2 separate regions of the Homo sapiens genome follow, and region 1 is linked to region 2. A link means that fine-mapping ties the variant in region 2 to the expression of a gene that starts in the linked region. Tissue or cell type: fibroblasts. Region 2 holds a variant in brackets; the other region holds the start of a gene. All regions are shown on one strand. Distances are between the middles of the regions.

What was found. PIP is the estimated chance that this variant, and not a neighbour inherited with it, causes the effect.
Region 1: GDAP1 starts here. The variant in region 2 is fine-mapped to the expression of GDAP1 in fibroblasts (GTEx, PIP above 0.99). The same link has a PIP of 0.9 or more in subcutaneous fat.

What each region holds. Positions count from the first base shown.
Region 1 is chr8:74,347,422-74,352,966 of GRCh38, forward strand. GDAP1 (ganglioside induced differentiation associated protein 1) reads left to right here and starts at 2,982. Exons shown (of 6, transcript NM_018972.4): 1 at 2,982-3,157; 2 at 3,853-4,045. The coding sequence starts at 3,041. RefSeq lists an enhancer at 2,995-3,224.
Region 2 is chr8:74,429,141-74,434,685 of GRCh38, forward strand. It overlaps a transcript of GDAP1 not described here. Among named protein-coding and RNA genes, the nearest start is that of GDAP1, 82 kb to the left of the region's middle. The variant C/T (reference allele first, on the strand shown) is at 2,861.

The DNA.
Region 1 (5,545 bases), 82 kb before region 2:
CTCCTGTCCTCAAGGAGCCCACAATGATCATGTCTATGATCTACAAAAACCATAGACACAGAATACACAGTGTAGTAGGAGCTCTGAATAAACATGTGAAAGGATAATAAGGTTTTTATATTACCAACAGTGGCTTTTATTGGGATGGGAAAAAAGTGATTATAGATCATTGGAAGTAGATGTAGCAGTTCTATTGTGATAAAACAAACACATTTTTCCTTATGTCATCTATTTAATGATATTCTTTTAGTGTTCACACCTTTAACAGGTAAAAGCAACACACATTCATTATAAAACAATTAGAGTATACAGAATCATAAAGAAATAAAAGCCACCTATATTTTACAAGATTGATGTATTGATGAGGATAGGTTAAGACAATAGCATCCAGAAAGCACCAAATAACAGTGCCTTACACAAGATCCTTTTTTTCCTTTTCAAGTAAAAGTTTGGAGGTTTGCAGACCCAAGTTGGTGTGGGTTCTGCTCCTCAGTGTCTTTAGAAGCTCAATTTTCCCCAAGTTCATGGCCCAGCTGTTCCTAAGGCGTGGCCCCATTCTTCATGGTCCAGGTCAGAATCCATCCTCTCTGAAGCAGGATGGAGGATGGGATGAAGAAGAGGCACAGGGCTAATTGTCTCTTTAAGAAAGATTCCCAGCACTTGCCCTGTGGCACATCCATGACTTTCCCCTTGTTAGAAGATAGTTAGGAGACCATGTTTTGCTGCAATAGAGCCTAGGAAATACAGTCTTTATTCTCAGCAGTCATGTGCTCAGCTAAAATTTCTATTACCACGGAAGAAGGGAAAAATAGGTAGGATCAACTGTCAGAATTTGTCAGAATTATTTCCTTAAATTGCAAATAGAGGAATTTCTAGGTTAGAAGTTATGCCCATTTTCACGATTCTTGAAGCATATTGATACATTTGCCTTCAGAAGTTCTGTGCATGTTTACACTCCCAATGAGATCTATGAATGCTTTGTACTAAACACCAAGTAATCAAGTCATTCAGTGTTTCTTCTATGGCTTTGCTGTGGGCAGGATGTGATGGAGAAAAGTGTTGTGTTTGAGGGACCAGGGCTTTATTGTCAGGACTTTTTCAGCTGCAGGTGACACATGGCTTATCACGAGTACTGGAATTTATTCAAATATTTAGGATGATTTAGTATTAAGGTTGGTGCAAAAGTAAGCGTGGTGTTTGCTATTGAAGGTAATGGAATAGAAAACTAGGAATCTGAAGGTGGATAATTAAAAAATGAAGTTCTGAAGAGGAATGGGAGAGGAGGATTATATGGGTAGTTGTAAAAATTTTGAGACCTACAGAGAGAGGATGAAATGTAATATAATGCCCTCCTAATGTCAGTGAAGGGGCTTTTACACATATGTTTTTATCAATGGCTACATTCCAGGCAATACCCTAGGTGCTTTATATATATCCTTTCTTGAATTCCCACAGCCATCTGGGTAGGCATATAATTTTTATGTATCCATTTTTTACACACAATGAAGTCAAAGCTCAAGAAAGCTCAAGTTAGGGTAGAGCTAGAATTTAAACCCCACTCTGTCCGATTTCAAAGTTTTCCTCTTTCCGCTCTTACTCTTAAGTGTGAACTGATAAAAACAATTTTGGCAAGGAATTCACCTTTTCTATAGCACTTGAATTAACTGAAGGATATAAAAGACATTATGAAATCTTAAAAAATTATGAAAGAATTACAGAGAGTAACAAATGAAGTACTGTAAAGGCAAGGAAGAACCTCATGAGATTTTGTCTTTTCCAGGGGCCCTTCTCTGACCTGGGTTGGCTGCCTGCCCCTCCTTTCTCATAGTACTCTGTGTTCACCCTAAGACAGTTCTCATCTTTATTGTGATTGTCTATTTCCTTGGTCGTCTCTACTGCCAGATTATATCTTGAGTGTTAGATATTAGATTTCACACATCTTTATATTACCAGGAGCCAGCACAATGTCTGGAACAGTGTAGGTGCTCAATAAATATTTGCCAGATAAATTATACAGGCATTTATTCTATGGTCATATTTATACATATTACTGAAAGAGATTTTTAAAATCAACTTACTATATGATGCCAAATTTTTAAAGACATACAATAATAACTAGACTAATATAAAATTATGATTCTGACTATGGTTATAACAGAATGTTTATAAGACAACTGAACCTGTGACTAAGACTGAGTGCCTACAACGTGACAGGGTGTTCTGAGTGTTTAACATTTTATTATTAATTTTTCACAAAAATCTTATGAGGGAAACAATAAAATTATTATTCTTACTTAGAAAATGGAAAAACCAGGATATGAACTTAGGCAGTACTGTTGTAGAATTTTTGTGTTTAACAACTAGGCTATTTTATATCGCCATTGTTTATTAGCTGTTTATGACAAAAACAGTTTTTTTGCATGACTCCATAGTGGTATTTTTTTTTCTTTTACAAAGCACAGTTTAATTATCAAAATCAAGTACTTACTGTTTATACAAGACTATTCTCTAATCTACAGCAGTTAGTCAAATTTGTGGAATTAGTCCACTAATGTCATAGTAGCATCTTCTAATGAAAGCTCATAGATCCTTTTCCTGTTGCTTTGCTTGTCGACCGGAACTTCCTTTCCAACAAAGGAACAGGCTCCAAGAGCAACCCTCAGTATCTTGGGAAATTGCTGCTTTTATACCTGAGCAACCTCCAAACCGAAGAGTAATTTGCTATCATCATTCTTCCTTACTGCCCTTCATAACCAGGGTCTCATATTTTTTATTTTTTCTTCTAAAAAAAAAAACAAACCCAAAAAACAACCGTTCAATTGCACCTCCCAGGTGCACTCCCAGGCTTGCCAGGGGCTTTCCAGTCGCAGACCCCGCGTGTTCGCAGACTCTGCCGCCGGCGAAACTACATTTCCCAGCGGGCCGCGCGCCCTCCTTCCGGCAGGTACCCCTCAAAACCCGGAAACGCCTTGCGGGGCAGTGTGGGAGGGAGAAGTCCAGGGCGGACAGGCTGGGCGCACCCGTGCTCGCGCACCCCAAGATGGCTGAGAGGCAGGAAGAGCAGAGAGGGAGCCCGCCCTTGAGGGCGGAAGGCAAGGCCGACGCGGAGGTTAAGCTCATTCTGTACCATTGGACGCATTCCTTCAGCTCTCAAAAGGTACAACAGGCCTTGGCGGCGGAGGGTGGCGCGGATCGGGCTTCAGCACTGGGACAGCTCCTTCTGAGTCCCGCCCAGGGAAGCCGGTCCACCTAGAAATCCGCCTCCAGTGTCCTGACCCCGGGCAGGCGCTCCCTCCAGGCGGGGACGCGCCCGGGTGGGGAGCGGGGAGAATCGATCGGAGATGATCCTATGTGGCTATGGCCCAGGCTCCGCCTCTCGCGAAATGCGACAAAAAAGCATCATTTTCAGTATTTGGTCTGGAGGCCTTGCCTGCTGGTCTTCGGAGAGAGGCAGAGGGAGGTGCCTTTGTGGACCCTCATAATCTGCGATCTCTTCTTTTGCTCTCTCGCATTCACTGTCTTCAGCAAGAGCTGATGTACCTACATGTCAGGTTCTTGTCTGGGGAGGACCCATAATCAGGTTTAGGACACCGAGAAAGTGGTAGTGATGAGGAGGGTGACTGTTTAATGAATACAGTCAGAATCATTTCATTACTTATTTTGTGTTCTTCTCTTAATTTGTTGAGTATTGTTCTTTCCTTACTTGTTAATTCCAGGAATAGGAATTGTTAAAACGACTGTTGAAAATGTCGGTAACACAGGGAAGCCCAGAAAGGCTGCTTAGCGGTGTCCAGGGAAGTCATTTAATTGAAAGCTTACATGTGTTGTAGTAACCAGTGTGAACTCTTCCAGGTGCGCTTGGTAATTGCTGAAAAGGCATTGAAGTGCGAGGAACATGATGTAAGTCTGCCCTTGAGTGAGCACAATGAGCCTTGGTTTATGCGTTTGAACTCAACTGGAGAAGTGCCTGTCCTTATCCACGGGGAAAACATAATTTGTGAGGCCACTCAGATCATTGATTATCTTGAACAGACTTTCCTGGATGGTAATGTTAAGGCTACTTGCGATTTCTTGGATTTACTTTCAACACAACTATGTGTTCCCTTTCTCTTTTTCTCTCTCTCCTCTCTCTCTTTCTCTTGTGTCATGATGGTGGTTTGGGATTAAAAACCTTTTCCATTTCCATAAGCACACAAATATCAAATAGGTCAATAACAAATTTTGTATAGGCTAGTGTAATGCTATTTAAAATAATTTAATGCAAAATACAAATGTTAATGTTGAAACTTAAAAAAATTCACTTGCAAAAAACTGCAAATGTGTGGTTTGTGTTGGTGATTTCTTAGTCTTAAATTCATAATATTCTAAATGTGCACTGTGACGATTTCATCTAATATACCAAATGGTTTCACCTTAAAAACAAGAGGGAAAAAAGAGCAATAAATCTTAAAGGAGAATAGAATGTTAGTATACCTGAGTTCTTTGCCCCAGTCACTTCTGAATTGTTTGAATTTTATATCTTTACTAAGGAATTATAGGGCTTAAATTTGTATAGTGCATTTAGGTAAATCATTTATTAACAGCTTGTTATGTGTCAGACATTTTATAATTTCTTCAATAATGTCTTCAAAAGTATCTGTCTGAGACAGGCATGGTAGACAAGTTATTCCCATTATGTAAATGAGGAGAAAGCAACAGGGTTGCCCAAAGTAATATAGCTATTGTATGGCAGAGTCTTTGGTCTCCAAAGCCTTCATACTACACTGACTGTCTCCCATAATCCTTGCCACTTACACATTGTCTTGCTTGTTCCTAATAATAATCCTTTGAAGTGAACTGTAGCTTCAAAGAGTTACCAAAGACTACACAGCTGATCACAATGGACATTGATGAGAGCAGAACATGGTGCTCAGAGCTTCCAGCTGAATGCTCTTCTAAAAAGGCTGTATGAGATTGTTACTTTTCATCTGCCACCAGTTATGTTGATGTTAATAGGGTAGGTGAAAGCAGAACCTAGCCCCAAACTACAGGAAGCTGACAAAGGAAATTACTAGGACAAAAAAAAGTCTCATGTACTTAGAAGGAAAATGAGTATTATTAGGCCTAGATGGTGGGCAGTGGCGAGGGGGAAGCCCAGGGAATTAGATTAGCAATGGGCTACCCCTGTTCTTAATCTAAGTGCTAGTCCCCTAGGATTGTGATTGGCGGTTTTAATTAAAGGTAGCTTTAGCGTAAACCAAAGCATTTAATGATGTACTTTCTTTTCATCTTTATTTGCTATTCCTTATAAATTTATATGCTGGGGACTGTACTGAAAATGACAACTAGTTCATTTAAGAGAATTTTTCTCAATCTTGAGCTTTTTGGAAATGGATAAGTGTGTTAATTTGTATTTCTTGGGGGATGTAATTATAATGGAACAAAACAAAATAATTGTGTTAATAAATCTATTTTAAATGATCAAAAACTTTAAAAAGGTATTCTAAATGGAAAATCCCATTTAAGTTTTTTGGTAGCATTGCCTGAACTGCTTCTACTATCATCA
Region 2 (5,545 bases):
TCTTTGCTATTGTGAATAGTGCTGCAATAAGCATACATGTGCATGTGTCTTTATGGCAGCATGATTTATAATCCTTTGGGTATATACCCAGTAATGGGATGGCTGGATCAAATGGTATTTCTAGTTCTAGATCCCTGAGGAATAGAACTTAAAGTATAATAAAAAATATATATATAATAAAAAAGTCTAAGAGACAAATGGCTAATTATAGTGATTTATTCTTCTACAAACAAGAATGAAAAATTCACCCTTCAAAATAGTATATGTAATATTATTAATTTGTTAAGGCTGCTATAACAAAATACTACAGACAGGGAAGGTTAAACAGCAGATATTTGTTTGCTCATAGGTCTGGAGGTGGGAAGTCTGAAATCAATGTGTCAACAGGGTTGATTTCTTCAAAGAGTCCCTCTCCTTGGTTTGTGATGGCCATCTTCAGATGTCTTCACATGGTCTTCCTTCTGCAAGTGTCTGTGTCCTAATCTTCTCTTCTTATAAGGACACCAGTCATATTGGGTTAGGACCCACCCATAAGGCCTCGTTTAACTTAATTACCCTTTAACGGCCCTATTTACAAATACAGTCATACTTTGAAGTACTGGGGGTGTGGATTCCAACACATGAGTTTTGAGGGGATGCAATTCAGCCCATAGCATGTGGTAATGTAGAATGTATGTACAGTCAATAAAGGAAAGAATATAATATTTTTAATTATATTTAGAAAAAATATAACTTTATGTATCAAGGAACATGATAAGCAAAGTAAAAAGAAAAATAACAAACTAGGAAAACATATTTCCATTGCACATCACGGACAGTGTTACCTGTTCTAATATACAGTGTCCCAAAACAGGGAAGAGCAACCACATAGAAAGATGTGGTTGAGAGAAATGAACATAGTTCGGAGAAAAAGAAAAGCATATGACTTATAGCCATATAAAAAGATGCACAACTTCATTGATTGTAAGAGAAATGCAAATTAAATACAACGAATACCATTTCTCAACTATTAGATGGGTAAATGGTTCAAGTGTGACAATGTACTTAGTTGGAGAAGCTGAAGGGCATTTTTATACATTGTTGATGTGATTGCAAAATGGTTTTACAAAACACCATATGCATTTATTCTTTGACAAAACAACTCCACTTCTAGAAATTTATTCCACTGGCAAAATTACAGAAAGGTGTGTGGACATGGCTTTCATTGGATATCTACTGGAGTAGCATAAGACTAGAACCAACTCCAAATTCCCAGAGTAAGAAGCTAGTTGAATAAACTATGATACTCCACACAATATGGTTCTATGCAGTTGTTAAAGGAATGAGGAATATCTTTATGATATATTGCCCACTGGAATAAAGCAATGTAGAGTAAAGTGTATACAGTATTTATTATTTACTGGAGAAAGGTAGGGTGCACATATATACAAGGGAAGAATAAGCTGTAAAATAAAAATCAGCTACTACATAAAAAGGGAGAGAGAAAGTAGGGTAAAGAGAATAGGCACAGAAGTGAATTTGCCTTGTAAACTTGACTTCTGAGCTGCATAAATATTTTACGTAATTACAAAACAAAAAATAAAAAAGCAATTTTTACAAATCTTGTGTGTTCAGTTAGGAGCACACCTTCACAGAGAGGAACTCTTCCCAATGGCTTTAAGGCACAATTGTTGTTGTTTTTAAAAATATCTTAAATAAATTTTTATTTTTATAGATTTAGGGGGTACAAGTGCAGGATTGTTACATGGATAAATTGTGTGGTAGTGAAATCTGGGGCTTTTAGAAGACACAGTAATTTGACTCTCCATCCCTAGTGCACAAAAAAGAATTAAACAATTTCCAGTATTCAGGATCCAAATGAAGTTCATACAGTGATTGTTTGAAATAACTTTTAAGTCTCTTATAATCCATATTTCCACATTTCTTTCTTTCTTTTTTTAATTTATACATTTTTCTGCTTATTGAAGAAAACTAGTTATCCTGTAGTTTTTCCTACAGTCTGAATTTTGCTGTTGCATCACCATAATATAGAAATAAAAATGATGTATGATATTTATGAGCTAATTGGAAATGTGAACATAGACTGGTTATTTAATGATATTAAGAAATTATTGTTTATTTTGTCAGGTGAGACTATACTGTGGTCTTATTAAAATGAGATATATACTGAAGAATTTATGGATTAAATGTAAATGATGCTATGTCTGGTTTGCTTTAAAATAACACGGAGGAGGGTTTAGTCTGGATTGGCTTATATGGACTTAAGTAATGAATATTATGGGCATTCATTATACTAGTTTGACTAATGTGAACATGTTCAAAATTCTTTCTTATTTATTTATTTATTTATTTATTTTTTGAGACAGAGTCTCGCTCTGTCACCCAGGCTGGAGCACAGTGGCTGGATCTCCGCTCACTGCAAGCTCCGCCTCCCGGGTTCACGCCATTCTCCTGCCTCAGCCTCCCAAGTAGCTGGGACTACAGGCGCCCGCCACTGCACCCGGCTAATTTTTTGTATTTTTAGTAGAGACAGGGTTTCACCATGTTAGCCAGGATGGTCTCGATCTCCTGACCTCGTGATCTGCCTGCGTCGGCCTCCCAAAGTGCTGGAATTACAGGTGTGAGCCACTGCACCCGGCCTCAAAATTCTTTATAATAAAAATGGTAAAATAAGCGTGCTAGTTCTAGAGTTTATCCACCTGGATTTGAATTTTGTACCACCACTTAGTAAATACGTGATTGTGGGAAAATAATTTCACCTTTCTGTTTTATAATCAGAAAAGTGGGGCTCATAGTATTATTACCTCATAGGATTCTTGAGGCAGTTAAATGAAATGTTTTGTGTGAAGTATTTGGAGCA[C/T]ATTTTGTCACACGGTAAGCAACAATAAATTTTAGTCATTGTCATGCCTATTATTATTTTCTCTAAACTTTAATATATGAATACTGGAAGATAGAGGGTCTCTCTCTCCCTCTGAGATCATGAGCTACGAGAATAAGTTGGAACTATTGGTGGCCATTTTTCCTTTGGAGGGTGCATAACTCACAGGAAAGCAGGGACCCTGGTGGGCATTTCTGTTGCAATATCCCTTAGGGCCTTGGATTCAGCCATTCCTCAAGGTATTTTACCCTTGGATTTCTCACTTGCTGAGTCAATAATCTTTAAGCTAGTTTGAGATGTATTTCTAGCACTAGCAAGTAAATTTTTTTTTTCTGGTCATTCACTCATTCTAACATACAATAGTGCTGTTACCCTTTACCTAAAGCACATTTATGCTTATAATATTTGTCACTTAAACTCTGTATAAGCTTCCCAGTATTTAGTAAATAAAACCCAACTTCCTCAGTTTGGTATTTGGTTTTGGCGTAGTCCAAATCTTCTTCTCTAGAGTAACGTTCCACTCTGCCTGTATCCCTATCATCCCATCTTCTGGATGGGCTGGAGGGTGTGTTCCTTGACCAGGTTCTTGACTGAGCTGCTCCTGTGCTTCCATGAATGGCTGCATCTCATCTGGACTGGGATTCCATCAGCGCCTTCCCTGGCCATTTAATAGATGGACTCGCCATCCTTCAAGGCCTTGTGCAAATGTCAACTTTCTAAAAATTCGCTTTATTGGAGCTGGAAGGGACTATCCTACTTTCTCTAGCCCTTTGTTTTGCTCCTTCTATAGCACTTGTCACTGATATGTTGGTATCAATATTATTGTTAATTTAAAAACTGTGATATTAAATTTTTTATGAGATCATTGGTTCTTTTGTACTTGGAATAAAATCTTATTACTATTATGTATAAAGCCTCACATGATCTGGCTCCTTCCAGCTTTTCTGACATCATATCTTATGATTGTCCCCTAGTCCAATAGGCTTCAGCCACATAGGCAATTATATTCTTCAGTAAACTCAGCTTTCCTTGCCACTAATCAGCTGTCCCATTTGTCTGCAAGGCTCTGCTTCCAGATCCTTCCGTGGTTGGTGCCTGCTCATTATTTAGGCTCTAGTGCTAAGGTCTTTTCTCAGAGGAGCCTTTCCTGATCATCCTATCTAAATTAGCCCTTACCTCCCCTCTAGAATCTCTATCCCATTATCTTATACTATTTTCTTTATAAAACTTACAACTGTATTAAATTGCCGTATTTACTGGTTTACTCCTTGAATGTCTGTTTCTGCCCCCTTCCCTTCCTAACTCCACAACATTAAAAGTTCCACGAGGGCAGGGATCATTTGGTCTTGTTTAATACTACATTTCCATGACCTGGAATAAGGATTAGCACATGGTCAATGTTTCATAAATATTTGTTAGATGAACATTTTCTAACCTGTTTACTAGATTATCTGTACTACAAAGGCACAGGAGCTCATTATCAAGTATCTTACTTTTTGCATAGTCTATGCACACAGTAAATATTTGATGAATGAACAATTTCATCCTATTATGTTGAACCATAGGGAATTGTCTTTTTTTTAATGTCAAAATGATTAAATATTGGGAATTGCCTATGGTTCAACCTGGTATCTTCAACTGTTTTTTCAAAGAATTAAACTTGCCTAGAGAGAGTTCTGGCATTTCCTTTGGCTATCGGGAGGTGATCTCTAGGTGCCTGGAAGGGATGTGCCACATCCCGAAGAGAGTAGAGGCACTAGCCCAGACCTTCAGGAGGGTATGGTAAAGGTCAGCCACACAGGATGTATGTGATCAACCCCAATAAAAACTTTGGATACTGAAGGCCTGGTGAGCTTCCTGGATTGGCAATACTCTGTGTGTACTGTCAGACATTGACACTGGAGAACTGTGCAGTCTGTGGCTCCATGGGGAAGGAAGGGATGACTAGTAGTTCTGCATTTGGAAACTTCCCAGATTCTTCCTCCTATGCATTTCTTCCTTAGGCTGGTACTAATTTGTACCTTTGCCTACAGTAAACATGGCAGTGAATCTTATAGCTTTCACTGAGTCATTCTAGCAAATTATTAAACCTGAGGATGGTCTGAATTTGTAGCCAGTTGGTATGAAGTGATGGTGGCCCTGGGAACCCACTGGGGTTCCCACTCTGAAGTGACAGCAGTCTTCTGGGGACTGTTCCCTCAGACTGTGCAGTTCATGTAAGTTCTTGCATGTTTAAATAGTTATTTACTCAAGAATAAAGACCGTGATCATTTCATTATTCCTCAGTGTCTGTGACAGTGTCAGCCAGTTAAACTCTAGACACTTTCTTCCTGCATTTGTCAATACAAATGCTGATTGGAGTAGGCCACTGAACTGTTCTCATGAAGTAATTAGACCATCAGTATATACTGAAGATTTAAAATGAAGGTACTGAATTGAACATAATCAAGTGCCAGATCTACTATACAGAAAATTCTGTGCTAGGACCTGTTATTCCCAGAGTGAGATGAGTATCAAAGAAGATGGGAATTGGAATGGCTCTAGGAACAGACAAAGTATGGCATGAGTTCTCATTCTACTTAGTCTTTATCAGACATGAACTTTTTGAGCCAACTCTGCTCATGGATAGAGTCAGGCCTTATACCATGCCCCTTCCTTCAGCCGTCC